4 linked regions of the Homo sapiens genome follow. The protein of the gene in region 2 interacts with the protein of the main gene of each other region in a pairwise test. Each region holds a gene or a part of one and is shown on either strand. Other genes may lie near its edges.

What was found.
Region 1: the proteins of TMEM51 (region 2) and CYP4F2 interact in binary tests that used the Homo sapiens proteins (3 or more experiments, as listed by UniProt).
Region 3: the proteins of TMEM51 (region 2) and TMEM254 interact in binary tests that used the Homo sapiens proteins (3 or more experiments, as listed by UniProt).
Region 4: the proteins of TMEM51 (region 2) and PTPN5 interact in binary tests that used the Homo sapiens proteins (3 or more experiments, as listed by UniProt).

What each region holds. Positions count from the first base shown.
Region 1 is NC_000019.10:15,877,512-15,881,098, reverse strand, and holds the end of CYP4F2 (cytochrome P450 4F2 precursor), read left to right. Parts: intron 1-1,201; coding exon 1,202-1,335; intron 1,336-1,430; coding exon 1,431-1,495; intron 1,496-1,670; coding exon 1,671-1,753; intron 1,754-2,162; coding exon 2,163-2,328; 3' UTR 2,329-3,076; downstream 3,077-3,587. UniProt on the Homo sapiens protein: A cytochrome P450 monooxygenase involved in the metabolism of various endogenous substrates, including fatty acids, eicosanoids and vitamins.
Region 2 is NC_000001.11:15,149,551-15,156,763, forward strand, and holds the start of TMEM51 (transmembrane protein 51), read left to right. Parts: upstream 1-4,196; 5' UTR 4,197-4,404; intron 4,405-7,213.
Region 3 is NC_000010.11:80,081,651-80,088,685, forward strand, and holds part of TMEM254 (transmembrane protein 254), read left to right. Parts: coding exon of another isoform or gene 1-91; intron 92-190; coding exon 191-294; intron 295-494; coding exon 495-554; coding exon of another isoform or gene 555-558; exon of another isoform or gene 559-567; intron 568-4,580; coding exon of another isoform or gene 4,581-4,620; exon of another isoform or gene 4,621-4,816; intron 4,817-7,035.
Region 4 is NC_000011.10:18,732,770-18,739,804, forward strand, and holds part of PTPN5 (tyrosine-protein phosphatase non-receptor type 5), read right to left. Parts: intron 5,196-7,035; coding exon 5,111-5,195; intron 867-5,110; coding exon 787-866; intron 604-786; coding exon 466-603; intron 1-465. UniProt on the Homo sapiens protein: May regulate the activity of several effector molecules involved in synaptic plasticity and neuronal cell survival, including MAPKs, Src family kinases and NMDA receptors.

The sequences.
Region 1 (3,587 bases), on a different chromosome or scaffold from region 2:
CTGTTTATCTAAACATCTTCCCATCAATGTGTATGTGGCTTGTTTCCAACCTTTTGCTAAAAGTGGACATGAGGCAGTCAGCATGTGTGCACAGTGACCATTCCTTGCATGTATAAGCATCTCTGCAGGACAAATTCCCTGAAGTGCAATTGCTGAATCAAAGAACATTTGCACTGTACAATTTTAATTATCATTGCAAATCCTTTCCTATTAGCTGAGTTTGATGGCACAAGTTTTCCCATAACTTTACCAATACTACTAATGTATTATTAAATTTTAAAATCTATGCCAATCTTCATATTTCTTCTTTTGATGGACATTGTTTTAAATAAGAGTGAGGTTGAACATCTCTTTCACGTGTTGATGTTTGTTTCTTTTTATGGAAGTGGTTCCTTTATTTTTTTGCTCTTTTTCTTTGGATTCTTTAAAAATATTTACTTTTAAGAATGTGTATTAAAATTGATTTTTTTTTTTTGAGATGCAGTCTCTATCGCCCAGGTTGGAGTGCAGTGGTGTGATCTCAGCTCACTGCAACCTCCACCTCCCAGGTTCAAGCCATTCTCTTGCCTCAGCCTCCCGAGTAGCTGGGACTACAGGTGCCCTCCACCATACCCCGCTAAGTTTTTGTATTTTTAGTAGAGACGGGGTTTCACTGTGTTAGCTAGGATGGTCTCGATCTCCTCATGTTGTGATCCACCTGCCTTAGCCTCCCAAAGTGCTGGGATTACAGGCATGAGCCACCACGCCCAGCCAAAATTGATTTTTTTTTTTCTGTCTTGGGTTGCAAAATATTGCCTTTCAACTTTTGGAGGGTACTTTTCATTACTATCCTTTATCTGCAAAAACTACCATCTTGAGCATATTCAACTTCTGTGAAGTTAAATTGATCCACTTTTTTCTTTTACAACTGTAAAATCCATCAGTTTCCCAGGATTTTGGTTTGAGCAGGGGCTGTCTTTATCAAATGTGAAGTTTTCACTTATTCTCATGTCTTTTTCTGAGCTCTCCCTCATGTTCCATGGGTCTGTTTTCTCATTTTTGCCACAGTGCCACACTATTTTTATTCTTGCGACTTTGTAACAATTCTTGTTAAAAGTTTATTTTATTGCGGGGAGAAAAGGTCTCACTTGCAAACAGAGAGAAGCTGGAGAATTGTGTCTTTGCTCCCTTGATAAGGATTGGGGCTGGGGTGTTTCCTTAGGGACGACCTGGCCCATTTGCCCTTCCTGACCATGTGCATGAAGGAGAGCCTGCGGCTGCATCCCCCAGTCCCGGTCATCTCCCGCCATGTCACCCAGGACATTGTGCTCCCAGACGGCCGGGTCATCCCCAAAGGTGCTCACAGCCTCACGGGGAGGAGTCTCCTGGGTAGGAAGAGGGGCCCCTCAGTGAAGGAGGCCTTCTCCTGACTGCTCCCTTCTCTCCCACAGGCATTATCTGCCTCATCAGTGTTTTCGGAACCCATCACAACCCAGCTGTGTGGCCGGACCCTGAGGTGCGGGGCCCCTCTCTCTGTTTTTGTCCATTCCAAGGCTCCTAGAGGAGGGGGCAGGGTTTTGATCAGGAGTATCCAACATCACCTCCCTCAAAGACACACACAACTGTCTGTCTCTCCAAGGCTGGCGGACTGGGAGACCCCACCCAACAACCCTTCTTGGTCTCACCTCCAGGTCTACGACCCCTTTCGCTTTGACCCAGAGAACATCAAGGAGAGGTCACCTCTGGCTTTTATTCCCTTCTCGGCAGGGCCCAGGTAAGGGCGGCCTGTGTCTGAGGTGGGAACGGGTTGATGGGTGCAGGGGTCTGGGCATGACAGTGGGGAAAAGGGGGACATTGTAGATGGTCCAAGTTCCAGCTCTCTTTCCCTCACCTCCTCTGGAGTTTATAGGAAAAGGTCCATAGAGTACGGTTGGGTTGGTCCTAGAAGGGTCTGTGGTGTGCTCAGAGCCCCCTCCTACCCCACCTTGGTCTAGGCTGGGGGTTGGAGCTCGGCTAGGCTTGCAGGATATGCAAGCCCGCATGGGGATCCAGGCACGGATACCCCCTTCTCTATTCCTCAAACTGCTCTAGGTGGGGTTGGGTGTCCCAGGCCAGGTTACCGGCTTGATGGGGCCAGGATGGGGCTCCTGGGTGCAGTCAGAGTTCCCACCTCCCTCCCCTAGGAACTGCATCGGGCAGACGTTCGCGATGGCGGAGATGAAGGTGGTCCTGGCGCTCACGCTGCTGCGCTTCCGCGTCCTGCCTGACCACACCGAGCCCCGCAGGAAGCCGGAGCTGGTCCTGCGCGCAGAGGGCGGACTTTGGCTGCGGGTGGAGCCCCTGAGCTGAGTTCTGCAGAGACCCACTCTGACCCCACTAAAATGACCCCTGATTCATCAAAAGTGAAGCCTAGAATTACCCTAAGACCCTGTTCCACAGTCCTGTATTCCATCCTAGATATCTACTCAAAATAATTGAGACAAGTGTTCAAACAGAAAGACGCTTGTGCGTGAATGTTCATGGCGGCCCTATTCACAGTAGCCAAACGATGAAAACAACCCCAAGCTATATATTACCAGATGAAAGGATAAACAAAATGTGGTCCATCCATACAATGGAGTATTACACAGCCATAAAAAGGAATGAAGCAGTGATCCCTACTACACTGTGGATGAACCTTGAATGCATGATACTGAATGAAAGACGTCAGATGCAAAAGGTCACATAGTGTACTGTCCTTTTATACGAAATTTCCAGAACAGGCCAATCTGAAGAGATGCATAGCGGATTGGTGGCTTTCAGCAGCTGTGGGGAGGTGGGACTGAGGAGCGACTGCTAATCAGTATGGGGTTTCCTCCCGGGATGGTGAAAATGTTCCGGACCTAGATAGTGACGAAGGTAGCACGACACTGTGAGTGCACTAAATGCTATTGAATTGGACACTTTGAAATGGTGAATTTCGTGGTATGTGAATTCTACCTCAATCAAAAAAATTTGCTATTTTATCTCACATACATTTTTTTTCTGTCCAGGTTGTTCATATAATAATATGCTGTGAGCATCTTTCCATGACATTAAATCATCTTAGGAAACATTATTTTGTGGTCCTCAAAATGTGTGTGTTAAGTGTTCAAATCAGTCTTAATTTAAAAAAAGACATCATATTAGAAAATAAAAGTGTTTTGTCTCACTTTGTAAGAATTAGCTTCATATACATTGACTATTAGTAACAAATTGAGTTATTCTTCATCAAGTAACTTTTGGGGTAGAGATCTCATTTTCACAGCAATAGATGCACAAATATTCATGTAAGATACAGGTGTGGTTAGACACCTTTCATAGAACAGTTATGATCTGGAAATTCCACAGACACTGAATATTTTGGTCGTATTAACAGAAGTAGATCACTGAGAAGGGAGAAGGTGACTTTTCAGCTCCCCCAGGTAAATGCTGATTTCATCCTCACATCGATCTTACAGATTGTAGATGAACTCACTTGTTCAAGGTCACTCAGTGAAGGGTGGAGTCAGGGGTGAATCTGAGCAGTTGGCATCAGAGGTCATGCCTTATCGTATCAAGGACATGATTTTCAAAGCGAGTCTCAGCCC
Region 2 (7,213 bases):
TACAAAAAATTAGCTGGGCGTGGTGGTGTACGCCTGTAATCCCAGCTACTCGAGAGGCTGAGGCAGGAAAATTGCTTGAACCGAGAAGTCAGAGGTTGTAGTGCAACCTCTGCACCACTGCACTCCAGCCTAGGTGACAGACACTCTGTCTCAAAAAAATAAAAAATAAAAAAAGTGGTTTGTGTAGTATCATCATATTTAGTGCCTTTCTCGGTGAATGATATAACTTGGACGTTCTTCCATGTCAGATAGCTCTACCTCATTCTTTCTGGTGACTTCATAGTGTGCCAGCATGAGTCTATGCCACAATTTACTTAGCATAGCTCCTAGTGCTGGGCATTGAGGTTGGTGACCACTTTTCACCGTTACAATTAATCAGCAATGAAAACCCTTGGACGTTCTGTTCCTGAGCACATGTGTGAGTTGTTCTGCATGATGATCTATTTCTATAAGCTGATTTTCCAGCCTCACTTTCATTGATGTGCCTGGAAAGTCAGTAGCATGACAGACTGGGGTCTTGGTCACTAACCAGGGACAGTCGAATATTTTAAAACTGTCGTTATTTACCCATTCAGCCAGAAAGAATAAAAATGTAATGCCACGGGAATTCTCAGAACAGCATCCTCTCCTCTTTGAATTCAGGCTTTCAGAACTAGACAGGCTAATGCTCCCACAACTCATGTTCAGGCCACACTGGGTACTTTGTCACATACTAGTTCACCTGATCCCCGAGTTGGTCCTGGAAAATAGGTATTATTAGCATAGAAATGCTAATAATTTTTTTTTGACACATGAGGAAACTGAGGCTCAGAGAGGACAAGACATCTGCCCAGGGTCACACAACTCACAAATAGCAGAGGATTCAGAAACCAAAGACAAAGGTGATGGAATCCTGCCTTCTTTCTAAATCCGTGATGTAGGCTAGATCATGGTGCCTCTTCAGAAGTTTACAGTGGACAGTTAGCCAAAAAAGCAGGTGAAGTGAACATCTGCCTAGGTGACTGAGTTTGCAGGATGTATTAGTTTCCTCCCGCTGCTGTGACAAATTGACCCAAACTTCATGGCTTAGAACAACACAGTGAACTATCTTCTTACAGTTCTGGAGGTCAGATGTCCAAAACGGATCTGCAAATGCCTTCCCACCTTCAAATCATAAGGCAGACCCAAACTTGCCTTTTTGTGGATGCCAAGAGCTCCTTCTGGATGCTCTGGCTGACACTCCATTCCTTTCCTTTTCTAGCTCCTAGAGGCTGCCCACATTCCTTGGCTACTGACCCTTGTCCAGCAACTGTATCATTCTGATCTCTACTTCTATCACCACATCTCCCTCTCTAACTCTGACCCTCCCGCTTCCCTCTTGTAGGAACCCTTTTGACAACATTGGACCCACCAGGAAAATCAAGGATAACCTCCCCGTCCCAACATCTTTAACTTGATCCCATCTGCAAAGTCCCTTTTGCCACGTAAAGTAACCAGTTCTGGGGATCAGGTTGTGAACATCTTTGGGCAGCCATTATTCTGCCTATCACAGAAGGGGGTTCCTAGCTTAGTGATTTAGAGCAAGGGCCCTGCAAAGACCCCAGATTCAAATACTTTGTCACTTGCTAGCAGATCCAGGTACCTAACTTCTCTGAGTCTTAACAGCCTCATCTGAAAAACTAGAATAATAGAATCTTCCTTCTAGGGCTGTTTTGAAAACCAAAGAACACAATGTATGCAGTGCACGTGAAACACAGGGTTCAATAAATGGTAGGGAAGATTCAGAGAAACTAACCATGTAGAGGGAGAGGGCTGTGGAGGAGAGGAGGATAAGGAGAGGCATGCTTCCTTTGGTAGCTTCTTCAGTTTTGCCTGGGCCTCAGCTTTGCCTGAGAATTTCGTCAGTCTCTCCCCAGATCAGCCAGGGTGAGCCTGCTTAAATGGAACACTCTGAAGATGATATCCTGTGATAAACAAGACCTGCCCAGTTGAGTCTGCAGCAGAGTGGGGCGGGTCTGGGATGACCCTGGCATGGAAAAGTACAGCAGCTCTTTGTCTTCAGATTAGGAGCTGGGACAGCTGTTCTGACATGATCACCCCCCGCCCCCACCCCAGGCCTCTCCAAAGTCCATCTTGCAGAGTCAAATGAAAACCAGATTCCTGGTCTTATCTGAGAGCTACGTGACTGTTTCCTGTCACTCCTTTGGAGCCTGGGAAGGTCCCCACATGCATTGTCTAAACTTTGGGATGAATACGCACAGCTCTTAAATGGGAGCATATTATTATAGGTACCTGCCTACACAAAGGGTCCTCCCTATTCACTAAAATCATGGGTTATTATTTAGGGCTTTCATTCATCCAACAAATGTTTATTCCGCATTTGCAGGTGGCCAGGCAAGGTGAACATTCTCTCAGGGTGGAGAGTATGTGCAGACAGGAGGAATTATGCTATGGGAGGGAGAGCAGAAGCTCTGGAGTGGATCATCTTGGGTCTAGATCCTGATACTTCCCAGCTGTGTTTTCACTGGGCAAAATGACCTCACCTCCTTAAGCCTCAGCCTTCTCTTCTATAAAGTGGGCATAACAAATAACCGCCTCCTAGGTTATGAGGATTAAATGAGATGGTTCAGGGGATGTGGGTGGTAACCCCGCCCCTGGTTCATAGCAAGGATGTGAGGAATAGCAGTTGCTGTCATAGACATGGAGACTGTTTCCCCAAATGCCTTCCCACCCCCAAATCATAAGGCAGACCCAAACTTGCCTTTTTGTGGACGCCAAGGTTCTGTCGAGCTGTTAGGGTGCAAGTTAAGAAGCCAGAATGGCGGGCTGAGGGGAGAAATGCCCGCATGTTACAACTCTGCAGGTGTACACACGTGGACACCATATGTACCCATGAATTCCGCCTTTGGAAGTGAACTTGATTGCAGCCTATTTTCGTCTGGAGGCGGTGGATTCCCGGTAGGAGGCGCCTTCAGTCCTCGGCTCGATCCTGTGACGCCAGCCAGCTGCCTATCGGCTTCTCAGTGTTTGAACTTCAAAGGGCTGGACGCTCACCCAAGAAGGGGACCCCGGCCTGACCTCTCTCGGAATTCAAAAAAATCTAAGGCTCAGAGAGGGAATGGGAGCTGGCTCTTCCCTCTGTGTTTAGCATCCACGTTTTTTGGCGGTCTGGCTGAAACCAGCCCACCCTAGTTCGGGCGCCAGAGCAACGCAGTTCCGAGGGCAGATCTCCAAGGGGCGGAGGCAGAGCCGCGGGTGAGAGGCTTCCGCGCCGACTTCGGGTTTGCACTCCCCGGAGCCAGAACTCCGTGGCGGCTCCGGGCCTCCGTGGATCCGAGCAGAGACTGGCTGCCCGCCTGCCACTCGCAGGCTGGGAAAACGCCAGCCGGTGCCTCGCCGGGAAAGTTCTCGGCAAAGCTGGGGATGAGCCCTCAGCAGGGCAGGCTCCCGGTGCAGCGCGCCCCCATCCATTGCCCGCGCGCAAGAACCCGGAATGGGCCCCACCTGGGCCGGGACTCGGGCGTGCGATCCCGAGGGCGCCCTGGGGACCACGCATCGGGTGGGGACCCTGGCCGAGGGCGTGAGCTGACTCAGTTTTTAAAAACTCGCTTCCTCCTTCCCTACTTGTGCCGGTCACTCACCTCGCTGGGAACCAGCCCAGGGCAGAAGGGGGAGAGGGAGGCGGTGGCCTCCCCAGGAAGGAGGAGAGGTGAGTATCCCGCCAGGTAAAGGCGGGGCGGCTGGCGGAGCTGTGCCTCGGCGTCTGCGCCTGGTGTGGGAGGAAAGCGGGTCTCCCAGCTCCACTTAAACCCCTAAAACCTGGGACTTCTAGCTTGAGACATTCCCCGACCACCACCCGTCACACACACGCGCGTGCGCGCACACACGCATGCACACCGATTCTCTGGGCCCTAGGGAGGAGGGGGGATCAGGGCTCTATTTTCTCCCGACCCCCTCTTATCCAACTCGGCTGGCAAGGGTTGGGGAGAACTTAGGCCCAGCCCCCGGCACACGCTCAGCGCGCTCCAGCGGCATACGCTGGGGAGTGGGTGCCCGCCTCGCTCAGCTGCGATCCCTCGCCTCGGGCCCGGGGGTGGTGCCGAGGGCCGGGAGGGAGGGTCGGCCGGTGGGCGGTGCTTCTCCGGGCTGGAGGCCGCTCCTGGCCGGCACCGCCCTCCGCCTCCCGCGGTCCCTCCCTCCCGCACGCCGGCGCTCCCAGGCCGCGCTTCCTGCGTCCCCAACCCGGTCCCTGAGAGGGCAGTGCGCCCTCTCCACCACTGCGTTCCCTCGGCTAAGAATCCCCCGAACCCCAGCCCCGCGATCGCGGCGCCCACCGAGGAGGCCGCCCGGGTGGGGCGCGGGGGTCGCGAAGCCCGCAGTCCCGGACCGCCCAGCCGAGACGGAGCCGGACCCGCCGCCTCCCGGGTGAGTCTCAGCCGCCGCGCCTTGCGCCCGCTGCTTCCCGCGGCGCGCTGTCGGTTCCCCACAGGGCCGTGTAAGGGGGCCGAGGCCCGTTTGGGTCTCCTGTCCGTCCGTCTGTCCGCCGAGCGCTTCCCGCCTGGGGTCGACCACCGGGAGGACTCCGCACCCCGCACCCTCTGCGGCCGCGCCCCGCCGGCGCGGGACGCTCCCGCCTCCCGGGCACCGCGCCTGGCCAGCTGGCCTCGGCTGGGGAAGGCAGCTGGCCTTGGGGGCCCCCTGTTGGCGGGAACAGGTGCTATCCGCCCGGCGGGCTTCGAACCCTTGGCTTCGCCAGAAGCGCTTTCAGCGCGTGGTTAGGAGCAGAACTTCCCAGTAGGTCCCAGGAAACCACCTTGGCGCTTTGCTCGCGCATCCCTTACTGTATGGAAGTCGGGGCCTTTTAGGGATTTAGATTCGTGTGTGTGTATGTGTGTGTGTCGCTCTACAAGCAAACACGGGGGTAAAGAATCGGGCATGAGCAAAGTGGATTGAAACTCGAGTCCTTCCCTGAGCGCGTCGGTTTCTTCATCTGTGAAACTGACATGACAACGTCCCAGGGTGCGGCGGGGCATTCATGCCCAGCACCCAGCAAGCACTCAGCGGTAAGTTACGTTACCGGGCCTAGGGGAGAGCAGAGTACAAATCAGATCTCAAATCAGCGCACAAACGGGAGGCGCTTGGCCCGGCGCGCCTGGTCTGCATTACAGGATAATGGTCTCTTTCCCAACCAGCGGTGGGGGCGAGAGACCTGGCCCCTCCCCCACGGTTTCCCCAGGGAGCAGCCCGTGGGGTGTCCTGCGCAGCGCTCCGAGGTGCCTGTGACGGTGCATGGGACTGCGGGTCCTTCCCAACAGCAGGGGAGGTCTGGCTGCTGGGAACCCGGGCGCTGCCGGAGTGGGGTGGGCGGGGACGAGGTGGGCGGGGCAGGGACCCGAACCGGGAGGTAAGTCAGCGGGTGGAAGGCTTTCCCCTCTAGGACCGGCCGGCTTCTGGCTTTCCTTTTGAATGGGTTACCCGGAGAACAGCTTGTCTAGGGAACTGTTGGCCCTGGGACCGTGAACAGCTTTCACACCCCGGAAACCTGTCACAAGAGGATCCTGACCTATTGGGACAGAGCCCCTGCCCCTCCAAATATCTCACTCCACCAATTGAGAGGTACCCCCAGACTGGGAGAAAAGGCCAAAGAAAGAGAGAGGAGGCTAGTGGTGAACCTGCTCCTCACGGCTTCGGAGCTGACAGCTCTCTGATGGGGTGTCTGGGGCCTGCCCCAGTGACCCAGAGCCCAGAAGCCTCAGGGAGCCCCCAGCCTAGTGAGGGAGTCAGGGATACTCATGAAAAGTGTTGCAGAATTGGCGATACAGTCAGGCCACACCACTTGCTGGCTGTGTGACCTGACCTCTCTGAGCCTCAGCTTCTTCATCTGTAAAATGGGATGATGATCTCCAAGGGCGAGGTGGGGTATTTATGCCTAGCACATGAAGTATTCTATAGTAAGTTATGTCACAGGGCTTAGACGAGAACAGAAGAAAGGAAATAACTCAGGAGGTCCTGCTAAGAAAAGAGTATTAGAATATTCATCAGGGAACTGGAGTCCCCCCAGGGAACAGGGGAGGAAGGGTGTCTGGGCAGATCGAACAGCACAGGCAAAGGCACAGCGACAGGAGAGTGCCTGGGGTGTGCTGGGCTGGGGAAGGTGCTCAGGCAGTGGAGGGTGTGGAAAAGTAAAGGGAATGGAAGGTCCGGAGTGAGCTGGACTGGACAGGTGGGGGCTTTCTTGGAATCATTCAACATATGTTGGCCGAGCACCTTCTGTGGGCCAGGCGCTGTTCTAGGTGCTCAACAAAGATGAACAACATGGAGAAAGACGTCCCTTTCATTCAAGTTCTCTAAGCAGGGAAGTCGTCTGATCCCATCCATATGTTAAGAAGATAATCCTGGCTGCCTGGAAGTTGGCGAGGATCCTAGAGAAGACTCCTAGGAGAGAGAGGCTGGCCTGTGGGTTGGTGGGGGCAGTGGGAATGAATGGGGGAGCTGGAGGAGAGGCCCATACAGGAAGCAGAGAGTAATGTGTGGCCTTCACTCATGACTGTTGGTCAAGGGTAAGATTCTGGGGTTCTACATGAGGCCCAAACTGCCAGCCTGGTCCCCTGCCAGAGAGAAGTAGTGAGTGAGTGTCTGGGGTATTGGCAGGACCCAAGCCCCTCCAGCTGCGACTCTCCGGCTCGCTGGCTCCAGATGTCACGAGGCCTGGGAGTTTCTCTGTCTGCGTGAGGGATGGGAAAGCTGGAGGCAGAGGCCAGCTGGAGCTTCTGGGGCTCCCGTTTTAATAGGTTGTGTTTCTGGTCAACGTTCCTCCCTCCCTCTGCAGGCCTGGCTGTAAACCCCTCAGGCTTCTTGGGCTGGAAGAGGCCAGAGTGTGAGGAGCTTTAGTGTGGATTCTCTTCCCCCAGCCCCAAATTAAGGTGGGAGTCATGCAAAAGAGAAGCATTGTCTCCCTCGGTGCTGGGAAAGTTTCAGAAGCTCAGGTGTCTTCTGACTTGGGATGTGGTATGGGGGCTGCTGACTTTTGCTTTCACTTTTGTTTCTGCTCTGAAGCTGGGAGGAATCCTCCTCTTGCAGCGAAAGCTGTGAGAATATCCTTCTCCATGCTTCAAGTCTCCCTTTGCTTGGAGGGAAAAGGAAGGTCCTAGAATGTCTCAGGTGGAGGGGACCTTCAGGTCATCAGAGACATCATTCTCATTTGACAAACAAAACTCAGAGAGGGGATGGGACT
Region 3 (7,035 bases), on a different chromosome or scaffold from region 2:
GAGTGAGACCCTGTCAAAAAAAAAAGAAAGAAAGAAAATAGAAGCCAAGAATGGAGACCCAAATGACTGTTCAGAGTTTCTTCGGTCTGTGGTAATTTTTTTACTGTTTCACAGCCTTTCTCAAAAACAAAAACAAAAAACAGGTTTTAAGTGACCTAATAGGTATTCTGTGTCTCTGCTTCTCTTTCAGTGGGTTGTCTTCTGGCCTCAGAGTATCCCTTATCAGAACCTTGGGCCCCTGGGCCCCTTCACTCAGTACTTGGTGGACCACCATCACACCCTCCTGTGCAATGGGTAAGGAGAGCTGCACAAGTGGACTGTGGACACTGGAGCTCTGGTCTCATGGGAAACCTGGAAGGCCTGCAGCTGCCTTTTGGTATCTAAGAGTAGTGTCGGTTCACCTTAAGGCACTTTTCTTTTTGAGATTGCTGTGTTAGATTTCATCAGCAGATAACTATCACCTTAAAAAAGATTAACCTTTTTTTTGGTTTCAGGTATTGGCTTGCCTGGCTGATTCATGTGGGAGAGTCCTTGTATGCCATAGTATTGTGCAAGTAAGTCTTTGAAGTAGGTGTTTGTTGCCTTTCTCTTAGTAGCTAATATAAATTGAGAGCAGCCACATTTAAATAGTTCACACACTTGTAGGCTGAGAATATTCTCAGGGTAGAGCGGAATCCCCATGCCTGATACTGAGCCTGGAGCAGAGGCAGTACCCAGTAAATGTTTGATGAATGCATTCATTTTGTTTATGTTGGTTAACCAATTACTTAGTTATCTAATTCAGATGACTTTTGTTATTTTTTAACAAATTTTCTGGGTAGCCCCAACTAGATCAAAAGACTAGGAATAGGAGCCTGGCTTCTAGTTTACAAAAGAGCTAAGTGACTGACCTAGGCCGATGACTCACAATCCTCGTTTTACAATTGAGCCACCTGAGGAGCTTTTTCAAAATACACACGTCTGGTTTCCAGACCCAGAGATTCTGATTGGGTAAGTCTTGCCTCAGAGATAGGAATGTGCTCTTTTTAAAAGCTCCACAGATAATTCTAGGATGCAATGCTAGTTAAAAGCCCCCAAACCAGACCCCACTCAGGAGATGCTAGTATAGGTTAATGCTATGTGAGAATACAAGAAAAAATTATGTTTGTACTTTATATAAGCATATACAGAAAGTATGGTACAATGAAAAACATGGTTATGGAAATGCCAAATTGCTTCTTTCCAATTAATTTCTGGTCAAGATAATAATTAATTGAATTAATTTCTGGTCAAGATATACTATCACCTCTATTATTTTTCTATTCTAAAAGTGGAAAATAAGATACTGTATTGCTATTACTATGTTTCAATAATAAAAATAATATTGATTGGGTACTGCTATGTCAGAGACTGCTAAGTATGTTAAATAGAATGATCTTACTCTGTTTTCTTGTTTATTAAACAAATAAGCTAGACTTTTTTTTTTTTTTTTTTTGAGAGGGAATCTTGCTTTGTCACCCAGGCTGGAGTGCAGTGGCGCAATCTTGGCTCCCTGCAATCTCTACGTCCTGGGTTAAAACGATTCTGCCTCAGCTTCCCCAGTAGCTAGGATTACAGAAGCCCACCACCATGCCTGGCTAATTTTTGTATTTTTATTAGAGACGGGGTTTCACCATGTTGGCCATGCTAGTCCCGAACTCCTGACCTCTCAGGTGATCCGCCTGCCTTCGCCTCCCAAAGTGCTGGGATTATAGGCATGAGCCACTGTGCCTGGCCACAAGCTAGACTTTCTATGAAGAGGAGCAGAAAGTAACTTTATTCTTTCTTTCTCACCCCTCTCCAAGTAAATTTGTTTTGTAGATCGTTCCCCACCTTCCACCGTATCTCTGGATGGAATTTCAAACAGATCGTAGGATTTCCAGTCACCATCTGATATTATCTATTCTAGCCCAGTCTATTGTTAAAACTATAAACTTTCTTCTAATTCAAAATGTCTGTTTTCATCCAGCTGGGGCTCAGGAGCCTGCAGTGGGGAGAAGGGTGCAGTTGATATCTTCTCTTGCACTTCACCTTCTCCTCTATTCACTAATAATCGCTGCTTGTGGTCCCTTGGGATAGTGGGAATAGTTAGGGAGAACAAGGCTCAGCCTTAAATAGCTGCTGCTGGCCAGGTGCAGTGGCTTACACCTATAATCCTAGCACTTTAGGAGGCCAAGGTGGGCAGATCATTTGAGACCAGGAGTTTGAAACCATCCTGGCCAACATGACAAAACCCCATCTCTACTAAAAATACAAAAAATACTAAAAAAGCCAGGCATGGTGGTGCGTGCCTGCAGTCCCAGCTGCTCAGGAGGCTGAGGCACGAGAATCGCTTGAATCCGGGAGGCAGAGGCTGCAGTGAGCCGAGATCGCACCACTGCACTCTAGCCTGGGTGACAGAGCAAGACCCTTTCTCAAAAAAAATAAAAGTTAAAAAAAAACAATAAACAGCTGCTGCCTTGTGATCAGGCAGCTAGGTACTGTGTATATTGCATATCCAGTATTGGCTCTTTCTCTCTAGAGGGGATGTGGTAGATTTTTGAGACACTACTCATCACCAGGGATCTCCCTTCTGCAGTTTCCTTGATGGTTCATTCAGACACCCCCTCCAGCATGCCACTTGCAGTTTCACCCTCAGAGTCTGTGTTCTAGGGAGAATTACCCTTTTATTGAGATCACTTCCGTCCTTCAGGTGGGTCTGTGGTACAGGGTCCCTTTTAAACCTACTCATGTTCAGTGCCTTCTCCAGGATCTGTATGGCTCACAGTAAACAACTTCCGTATCCCTCCAGTGGGATAATCTACAAGTGCATGCAGTTATCAGTGTGGCGGTGCTTCCTTCTCTCCCAGCAAGCAGACCAAACAGTGTTTACTCTTTGGAATCAGATATTAAACCCTTCCCCAAATTCCAGAGACTCATGTCAAGCTCTACAAATGGTTCTGTTGAGGCCATTCTCTGGGCTTGACTTGTGGGAAATGCCACAGCCCACTAGGACCTCTTTCCAATGGCCTCTGCAGCATCGCAGTAGAATCTCAGATTGGAAGTGTCCGGTCCAGCCCCTCAACTTGGAATGTAGGAGTGCGTGACACCTATTTTGTTGTTGGCATTTGGAGTATCTGATGAAAACCAAAATACAAAAATTTTTATTTTTATTTTTATTTATTTTTTTCTTTTTTGAGACGGAGTTTCGCTCTGTCGCCAGGCTGGAGTGCAGTGGTGCAATCTCAGCTCACTGCAACCTCTGCCTCCCTGGTTCAAGCGATTGTCTGGCCTCAGCCTCCCAAGTAGCTGAGATTACAGGCGCCCGCCACCAAGCCTACTTTTTGTATTTTTAGTAGAGACAGAGTTTCACCATGTTGGCCAGGATGGTCTTGATCTCTTGACCTCGTAATCCGCCCACCTCGGTTTCCCAAAGTGCTGGGATTACAGACGTGAGCCACCGCACCCGGCCCTCAAATTTAATATACAATTTTTTTGAAGGGCAGAGGGAGAACAGGCATAGAGGTTAGGTTACTCTTATGTTCTTGAAATCATTTATGGTCTAACATGTTAGAATGTATCATTAGTCACTATGAATCAGAATAAATATTCCTTTTGAATTATGAGATGAGTTGGGTACGGTGGCTCATGCCTGTAATCTCAGCACTTGGGGAGGCTGAGGCAGGCGGATCACCTGAGGTCAGGAGTTCGAGACCAGCGTGCCCAACATGGTTGAAACTCTGTCTCTACTAAAAATATGAAAAAAAAAATTAGCTGGGTGTGGTGGCACATACCTGTTACCCCAGCTACTCAGGAGGCTGAGGCAGGAGAATCGCTTGGACCTGGGAGGCGGAGGTTGCGGTGAGCTGAGATCGTACCACTACACTTTAGCCTGGGCGACAAAGTGAGACTCTGTCTCAAAAAAAAAAAAGACAAGAAAAAGAAAGTGCCATTTTTGGTGAGGTGAGGGGGCAAAAAACCTTTTGCTATTTTGGTAGATTAAAAAGGGTATCTAGCCATTTTAACCTGTATTTATTTGATTACAAAGTAAGGTTCAACTCTTCTTTGAAAGGTGCTGTAATTCTTGTTACATAACAATACTTTAACAAGAAAAATAGAATGTTTTTTCCTTAGGGATAAATAAAATAGTATCTCTTTGAGGCCAATATTCATGTTCATTGTTACCTTTTTATAGTCTGGAGTTCCATTCAGAATATATGGCTTATTCTCTTAGTTCAGAAATTAGATTCTTGCTGCTTGCATACCCCAGTTGGCTCTGCAGCCCTTAGAAAGGTTTTTAAGGTTTTGCAAAAATTTGTATGTAGAGTAGATTTTATTACAGTGTAGAAACAGAAAAGAAGTTCTTGACAAGTAGAAGTACTCTGTGACAGGGCAGCCTCGAATGACCAAAACAGGTAAATTGTGAAATTTTTCAAGTATCAGAGGTAACATTTTTTCTTAAGGCAGGAAAAAGTGTACTCACAAAGAGATTTTTGCATCTGCTTGGGTCTTGGTGGAATCATTAAGGGAAATGTGAATTAAATTAAGAAAACTTTCTTAAAAGACTTTTGTCTTTTAAATAGGCAAAATGAGCTAAGAATACGGATAAAGGTATGTGAATGAGAACAAGTTATGATGACCCCAGGAAAACCCTTCTCCGGGTTACCTAGCCACCAACTGTGACCCTTCTGAAGGAGGAGGAAACAAGCACTGCTGTTCAGTGAGCCTGCTCTTCCAAGATGGCAACTCATCTTTATTTTTCTTTACTAAATATCATACACATTTACAGGATCATATAAATTTACTTTCCAAAACAAAATATTTTTGTTGTTTTGCCTATTTCAAAACAAACATGTTTGTTTTTAAAAGTTAATAATGTTGTGCTAAAAACTCAGCTAATAAAATTGAAAGTTGGCTGGGCGCGGTGGCTCACGCCTGTAATCTCAGCACTTTGGGAGGCCAAGGCGGACGGATCACCAGGTAAGGAGTTTGAGACCAGCCTGGCCAATATGGTGAAACCCCGTCTCTACTAAAATACAAAAAATTAGCCGGGCATGGTGGCGGGCACCTGTAGTCCCAGCTACTCAGGAGGCTGAGGCAGGAGAATCACTTGAACCCAGGAGGTGGAGGTTGCAGTGAGCCGAGATCGCACGACTGCACTCCAGCCTGGGCAACACAGCAAGACTCCATTTCAAAAAAAAAAAAAAAATTGAAAGTTGCTGGGCATGGTGGCTGATGCCTATAATCCAATTATATATATATACATATAGATATAATCTCTTTCATAATTGGTTTCCATTGTTATATATGCCTGTTTTAAATTTTATTTTGTTTTTTAAGAGATGGGTCTCACTCTATTGCCCAGGCTGGCCTTGAGCACCTGTGCTCAAGTGATCCTCCTGCCTCAGCCTCCCAAGTAACTGGGACTACAGGTGTGCCACTGTACTGGGCTAACATATCCCTATTTGTCTATGTCTATACATATAAACTTACCCATCCATTAATAACAGTGCATAGTATTCTGTTACATAGATGTGCCTTAACGTATTTAAAAAATCTTTCTTCTGATGGACTTTTAAGTCTCTACTTTTTTACTATTACAAGCAATATGGCAGTGAACATTAATTTCTTGCATTTGTCCCACTTTGGTATTTGTTCCCTTAGAAAAAAATTCCAAGATCTGGAATTTGAAGATTAAAGAATGAATACTTTTGGCTGGGTGTGGTGGCTCACACCTGTAATTCCAGCACTTTGAGAGGCTGAGGCTGGTGGATCACCTGAAGTTAGGAGTGCGATACCAGCCTGGCCAACATGGTGAAACCCTGTCTCCACTAAAAATACAAAAAAAAAAAAAAATTAGCAGGGCGTGGTAGCGGGCACCTGTAATCCCAGCTACTCAGGAGGCTGAGGTAAGAGAATAGCTTGAATCTGGGAGGCGGAGGTTGCAGTGAGCTGAGATCACACCACTGCACTCTAGCCTGGGCAACAGAGCAAGACTCTGCCTAAAAATAAAACGAATGACTACTTTAAATTAAATGATATGTATTGCCATATTGCCTTCAAAAGTATGGAACTAATTTATTCTTCTAACATAAATATATGATAGTGCCCATTTCCCCACAATCTCACCAATACTCTTCAAATGGGCTGTCTGTCCTATTCTTACCTGTTTATAGGCACTCCTTGTTTTTTATGATCTTGAGTACTTTGTCCTTTAGGTGTCTTGCAAATATCCTTTCTCACGGTCTTTTTATTCTGTTGGGCCTTTTGATAAACAGAAGTTTATCAATGTAGTCAGTTTTATTAATTTATTGATATTAAAGTTATATTCTTTTACAGTATCTTCTAACAGTTTTAGAATTTTTTTCTTTCACATTTAAGTTTTCAGTCTACTTAGATCTTATTTTTTTTTAAGATCTTTACCTTTTCCATCTGGATGCCGTTATCCCAGAGCTACTTATTGAGACATTCAGTCTTCACTGATGTGCCCTATCTTATATCATACATACTGATATGTGTGGATCTATTTCTGAACACTCTATTCTGTTCCATTGGCCTGTTTATCCTTGGGCTAACACAACACTGTCTTAATAGCAGCAGCTTTATAATCATTGTTATCTGACAAAGCATCTCCTCTCATCTTGTTCAATAGGATTGCCTTTGCCTACACCTTTGCATATTCTGTGCATTGTCTTGTGCCACAAAAACAAAAAATAAAGATGTTGAGATTTTCATTGGATTGACCATGTGAAATAATTTGGAGAATATTGGCATATTTCCATTATGTTTTTTTTCTTTTTTTTTTCCTTAAGGTCAGGAAAGCATCAAATATTTCTATTATTGAGTCTTCTAAATGATGAAATGATCTGTTTCCATTTATTTAGATCTCCTTTAATATATATATAATTTTTAAGAGGTTTTACACATTGTTGTTACATTAATTTCCAGCAACTTCTACTTTGAGATGTTATTATAAATGACTTTTTTTTAAAAAAAGATGGAGGGTCTCCAGGAGGCTGAGGCAGGAGAATGGCATGA
Region 4 (7,035 bases), on a different chromosome or scaffold from region 2:
AGGGCCAGCGGAGAGATACACAAGGGCAACAGGGTTGCTGCTACAGAGTGTTGGGTTCAAATCTCAGCTGCAAACTCTATAAGCTACTTCCGTTTCCTGAGTCTCAGTTTCTTCCTCTGGAAAACAGAAGTGCTACCCATCTGAAGGACTTTTATGGAGATTCGGTTAAATGGGCCCTTATGGGTACAGGAGTAGCCAACATCTGTCCTGGCAGGCTGGGAGGCAGCAGAGTGCTGTGTTTAAGGTCACGGGCACTGGAAGTGGAGAGGCCACCTCCAGGCATGCCTCTATCTGTGAAGCCCGGGGCAAATGACTTAACCTTACCGAGCCTCACATCTCCTCATCTTGGCAGCGGAGTGAACACCGCCGACCTCTTGAGATTGTCATAAAGATTAATTTGAGAACAAGATACTTAGTGTAGGGCGCAATGTAGCAGACACTTAGAATGGGGACGGGGGTCCCTACCTCGTTCATCTCCTCGATGTTGGTGATCATGACAATGATGGGCGTGTGCTCCTGCCACACCATGCGCCAGAAGTCGGCGACCGTGCTGACGATGGGTCCCTGAGTGGCGATGTACACCTTCTCCTCCCCACCATAGCCCTGCGGCCAGCCAAGTCCAGGCTGTCAGGGTCAGAGGCAGTGCTCCCAGGACCCCATCCCCACACTCAGGCTCTTCACAGGAGCTGGCAGGAGCCAGACTGGTGTAGGGACAAGGCTGGAGGATGGATCCCATCGACTCAGGCCTCCCCTTGAGCAAGAGGCCGTCAGGGTGGGAATACGTACCCGGATGTAGTTGGCATTGATGTAGGAACTCAGAGGGTCGTCAGGGTCTGGTGAGGTCAGACACACTCTGCTGTGAGGGTCTGGGGTGGTGGGAGACAAGTAAGGCTGGAAACTGGGCCCTCTGGTGCAGGACCCACTTGCTCTGGCCTATTCCAGCATACCCACACTTCTTCTGCGACATTAGCAGTTCTTCCTTCCCTTGCCCAGCAGCAAAACATTGACCCATTCATGGTTCATTTTGTAGGTGAGGACTCAGGATGAGGAGGAGGGTGGAGAGAGAGGGGGGTCCCCGGGTCTCTACCTCTGTCTCTATCCTTAGCCTGTGCCTCTTAAGTTGCCCTATACTCACTGCATCTTAGCTTCTGGAGAGGAGACAGCTAAGTCAACAATGGAATTACCTAGGGAAATTCCTGTACAGATCTTGTTCAGCAAGAGACAGCTAGCTTGAGTACACACTGTCATTGACTTGCTGTGTAGGCTTGTAAAACACATGGCCTTTCTAAGCCTTAGTTTTCCTATCTGTCAAATGGAGGCAAAGATGCCTACTTGCTTGGGCTGTTGGGAAGATGAATGAGAAAAGAGATGTGAAAGTTCTGTGTAAACTGTAAAGTGCTTTATAAATATAAAGGGCTGTTAAGATTCGGGAGTAGAAAGTTGACGGAGGCTATTAACATGAAAACGATAGTCTCCTCTATCTGGATTAAGACTGTGGGGTCTCAGCCTCATGTCCACATATGCAAAAAGGTTTTTTTTCCTTTCAATTTATTCACATGTCAAATCCCATAGTAAAAGGGTCTCTGTCACTCAGCTGGAGTGCAGTGGCACGATTATGGCTCGCTGCCGCCTCAAACTCCTGGGCCCAAGTGATCCTCCTGCTTCAACCCCCTGAGTAAGCAGGACTAAGCCATGAGCCACTGCACCTGGCTAAATTTATTTTTTTATTTTTATTTGTTTATTTTGGTAGAGATGAGGTCTTGCTATGTTGACTAGGCTGGTCTCCAATTCCTGGCTCAAGTGATCCTCCTACCTCGGCCTCTCAATGTGCTGGGGTTATAGGCATGAGCCACTGTGCCCAGCCCCCACTCTGCTCTTCTTCCTGGAGTAGATTTTGTTTTGTTCCAGCTACAGCCTCTCTGCATTGACTATTCTGTCAGCCTGCAGAGGCCAAGACTGAGGTTGTATGGGGTAAGGGGGAAGCTGGCTGGGGCCCCAGATTCCTGGGTTCTGGTTTAGTTTTGTCATCAGCTCACTTGTCCAGGCCTCAGTTTCTTTCCTATAATAGGGAGGACTGGACTAAAGGCACTTCCAGTGTGCACATTAGGAGGCTCTCACAGGCAGTATAGGGGAGTCATTAAGAGTCTACACCGCTGAGCCAGAGAGGCTAGGTTCAAATCCTGATTCTGACTTACTAGCAGTGTCAACATGGACAATTTACTTTATCTCCCTGTGCCTTATCTGTAATCTGGGGATGGTCATTCCACAATGACCTTGCTTATCTTGTAAAGGAGTTAACTTTAACAACTAGAGTCCTTATGCCAGTAACTAGGACCAACACGAAGTATCAGTTGCTGTTATTCCTGACATTATTACAAGTTCCACAAGTTAAAGGATAAAAAGAAGGATCCTAAACCCAGTAGGAGAAATTGGGGAGGTAAAGGGCACAAGCTTCGCCTCTTTAGCCCAACCCCAATGTCTAAGGTTTTGGCAGGTGATTTGGGGCAGTTCTTGTGAAGAGGGGGTGTAGAGGGTGGCAGGGATGGAGAGGAGACAGGGTAAACGGGAGGGGGGCTTTTGGGGGACCTGCAGCAGAGAGGGGCAGGAAGCTCTGTATGGGCCGTCTCCCTTCTCCTTGTCTGCAGGCAATGCTGTTCTGTCAGATTCACGTGCACAGTGCAGGGTAGGGAGTGGTGAGTGGTGAGGCTGGAGAGGAACCAGGCGACAAAGGGTCTTATAAACCAGGCTTAGAAAGCTGGATTTAGGCCGGGCGTGGTGGCTCAAGCCTGTAAGCCCAGCACTTTGGGAGGCTGAGGTGGGCGGATCACTTGAGGTCAGGAGTTGGAGAGCAGCCTGGCCAACACAGTCAAACCCTGTTCCTACTAAAAATACAAAAATTAGCCAGAAATTGCTTGAACCCAGGAGGCAGAGGTTGCAGTGAGCCGAGACTGTGCCACTGCACTCCAGCCTGGGCAGCAGAGTGAGACTCTGTCTCCCCCAAAAAAAAAAAAAAAGCTGGACTTAAACCTGAGGATTACGAGGGTGACAACAATGATGGCATTTAAGGAAGAGAATGACACAATTAGATTTGTTTTGCCTCATTTTGGTGACAATGGTAGAAGATGGAGAGGAGAGTGTGGAAGCCAGAAGACCAGTTAGAGGTTTACTGCAATGATCCAAGTAAGAAGTGTCAAGGATCACAGGGCTGTCCAGCCTGGCACGGCTCCAGGGGGCACTTATGTCAATGTAGTCTATGTAAATTGTGTCCCCTGGAATTGGACAACATGAAAGCCCTAACCTCAAAAACATCATTTGGCAGTGAGGCTGGAGAAGAGGATGTAGATTTGAGAGATATTATTCATTCATTCATTCAAATAGGTGCAGACCCCGGCATGGTGGCTCATGCCTATAATCCCAGCACTTTGGGAGGCCGAAGCAGGCGAGGACAGCTTGAGGCCAGAAGTTTGAGACCAGCCTGGTCAACAGAGCAAGACCTCCATCTCTACAAAAATTAAAACAGTCCAAATAGGTGCAGAATGTCTACCATGTGCCAGGCAGCACTGCTTTGATGCTTGGGACACGGCGGAGAAGGGGACAGAAATTGCTCCCAGCATCTTGTTCTCAATGCTGCCTGTGGGTTACTGTTCACTCTGACTGTAACTGTGCATGGACCTCTCTCCCCCGCTAGGCTGGAAGCTCCTTGTGCACAGAGTCTGTGTCCTATTTATGTCTAAATCCTCAGCCCCTGGGGCAGGAGCCGAGGAAATGTGTGCCCAGTGAATGAGAGAACAAACCTCAGCGCGTCCTGGATCTCAGAGGCAGCCTCTGCTCAGCCTCACCTGCCCTCTGCACCCCCCAACCCAGTCTCTGAGGGCACAGGCTCCATTCTTGCTGGACACAGACAAGATTCTTTATTGGGCTCGGGGGCCTGGAGGCTCAGGGCATGGTTGGAGGCAGCTCAAGCCTCTTGGAATGCAGCGGGGACTGCATCTGCACGGAATCCTAGTCTGCTCCCACCTTCCCCCAGTGGCCATTCTGAGCAGCCAGCAAAGTCCAAGGTTCTAGGATACTCGAGTCCCTCCCTCCAGGTAGGGCTGGGATCGGGGAGGGCAAGACGAGGGAAGAGGTGAGCATCCCTGAATAATGCATCCTGGCCTTAAATGGCTCTTTGTTTAACCGGAACTACCTAGAGACTGTGTAACCATAGCAACTACAAGTCGATATTTTAAAAGTTAAAAATAAGTCATGACATCTTACATGTTGTTGGAGATGCTGATGGCAAAACTGCTTTTTAAAAGCCTCGCTACTCCACAAACTGAATGGAGTAGGTTTATGGGGATTCACTTTCAACAAGTCAACGCCCAAGCTAGCCCTGGGGACTGGGGTCAGAACTTGGCGAGGGTGGCAGGCTCATCGAGGCTTGATAAAAGTTATCTGAAAATGATACCCCAGGGCTGAAAGAGGAGCATCAGGTCACCTGGTCTAACTGCCCCCAAAGGAGGAAAACCCCTTTCAGACCTTCTAGGGGACTGCTCGTGCCGCCTCACTTGAATATACTGAGTAATGGGGAGCTCACTCCCTGACAGAGACAACTCATTTGCCTGTGGGAGTGGATGTCCCTGTTAGAGGGCTTACAATTCGACCACACTCCACACAGTGTAGACAGAGAGCCTGACTCTGGGATCACAGAGGCCCAGGTCTGAAATTCAGCTCTGCACTTCCTAGCTGTGGGACTGCAGGTGAGCCACTTAACCTCTCTAAGCCTTAACTTCCTTTCCTTAAAATCTGCCCACTCTGAAAAGAGTTTCGGTTACCACAGTGTGGCTAGGAACTGCTGTCATTACCACCCTTTCTCTTTGGGTTTCTAGAGGGTCCAGCACAACATGTGGCCAGGCAGGGCAAAGGACCAGAGAGTGCTGTGCGAGGAAATGTACTCGCCTCTGGCCTCACCAGGGCAGCGCTTCCCTTCAGCCAGCAACCCCCAGCCCTCTGTCCCACCTCCTCCAGTCCTGTCACCCCTAGAGGCCCAGCTGAGGGTCCTCCTCAGGGTGAGGGGATCCCCAGGTGAAGCTGAGCCTGCCCCCATCCCTCTGGGACAGTGAGTACTCACTGGGAAGTATGGTTTTGTACCGGTTCTTCCGCACCAGCCCAGGGATGTCGTACTCTTTCGGATCCACAAAGTTCATGGGGATTTCCTGTGGAAGGAGGACACGGGGTGTGAGCAGCTATGGGCCCTCACAGATGTTTGAATCCAGGGGCTGCTGTGCCCCCAACTCCTAGCCCAGGGGCTGGCTTGAGTGCACGCATTCATTCAACAAACATTTACTATTAAGAGAGTTAGTGCTCACGACGCATTCAGAACAGTGCCTGGCACATGCTGAGTGTGTAATAAATATGATAATGACTATTGTTTATGGAGAGCCAGCCTGCCATATATAGACAGTCAATAAATAGCTGATGAATGAAGAAAAAGACAAAAAGTGACCTGGCCAATGGCTGCCTTCTTCCATGCTCCCTGGGCAGCATTCCTCCCTGGGCATCCCTATCTCGGGACCTAGGTTCGTGCTGCTTGCTCTGTGGTAACACACACCCCATCCTCATCTCATGTCCCGCCTCCTCTGAGAAGCCTTCCCTGATTCTCCAGAAGGAGAGAAGCCTCTTTCTGAGATCCCAGGAATATCTGCACCTCCCAACCACTGTCTGTGTCCAGAGCTCTGAGTCTGAACTTCTCTCCTGGCATGTGAGGGCTTCTTGAATCTGGCCTCTCTTTACTTCCAGTTAGGCCTGTTTCTCCCCTGTTGTTAATCTGCTGTTCTCAGTCCTGCCTCTGAGTCTGAGCTTGTGACGTTCTGCCTCCTGAGGGCGCTGGTCTCCCCTACCCCCATCTCTCCAAGTTGTTCCCACCCTTTAAAGTTCACCTCTGCCCGGGCGCGGTGGCTCACGCCTGTAATCTCAGCACTTTGGGAGGCCGAGGCAGGCGGATCACAAAGTCAGGAGTTTGAGACCACCCTGGCCAACATGTTGAAACCCCATCTCTAATAAGAATACAAAAATTAGCTGGACCTGGTGGCGGGCCCCTGTAATCCCAGCCACTAGGGAGGCTGAGGCAGGAGAATCGCTTGGAACTGGAAGGCGGAGGTTGCAGTGAGACAAGATCGCACCACTGCACTCCAGCCTGGGCAACAAGAGTGAAACCCTGTCTCAAAAAAAAAAAAAAAAAAAAAGTTCACCTATGAGTCTGTCTCCTCCTGACATCTTCCGGGATGACTCTCCATGCCTCTTGCCTCTGCATTTCCTTCCAGTCTGTCCACCAGCTTAGCCCCTGACTGCACCTAACTTCACACTGTTCATTGTTTTTGGACACACTAAGTATGGGCTTTGTAAAATGAGGATCATCACACTTTCCAGGATTGTGAAAATCAAAATAAAAATACAACACGTGCAAAACTGCCCCCAGAGTGGGTGCTCAGGCCACGCTCCTTCCTCAACAAAGACCCACCGGACAGGAAATGAGGTAGAGGATGTGATTCTTTCTCGAAGGGGAGATGATGGCAGTGGGAGCTCAGAGAAGGAGCTGAGGCTGGGGTGGTTAAAGAAGGCTTTCTAGAGGCATCTGGAGTGAGTGATGATGTGAGCAAAGGCACAGGAGGAGAAAGGCACGGACGAGACTGGCCCAGTTTGAAGTGGACAGTCCCTGCAGGGGTGGGGCATGGGGCATAAGGCTGGAAAAGGAGGCTGGGGCCACACGAGGTAAGGGGTGCTGATGGTGTATGCAGGTGGTACCAAGTTCTGGAGAACTTGGAGCAGCAGATCAGATGATGATGGAGGTCTTCTCACAGGGGAGAGCTACCCGGTCCAGACAGGCCCAGGGCGGAGGCCAAAGGAAGGGAGCTATGAGGGAGGAGGCACCTGCTTCTGTACCCCTGTGGCTTCTACCAGGAGGAACTCACCCCAGATACTCTTGGCCTCTTGCCTTTTCCTGCTCACAGAAGTGAGGAGTTACCTGTTTGGTGAATTTGGTTGAGGAATGGAGCT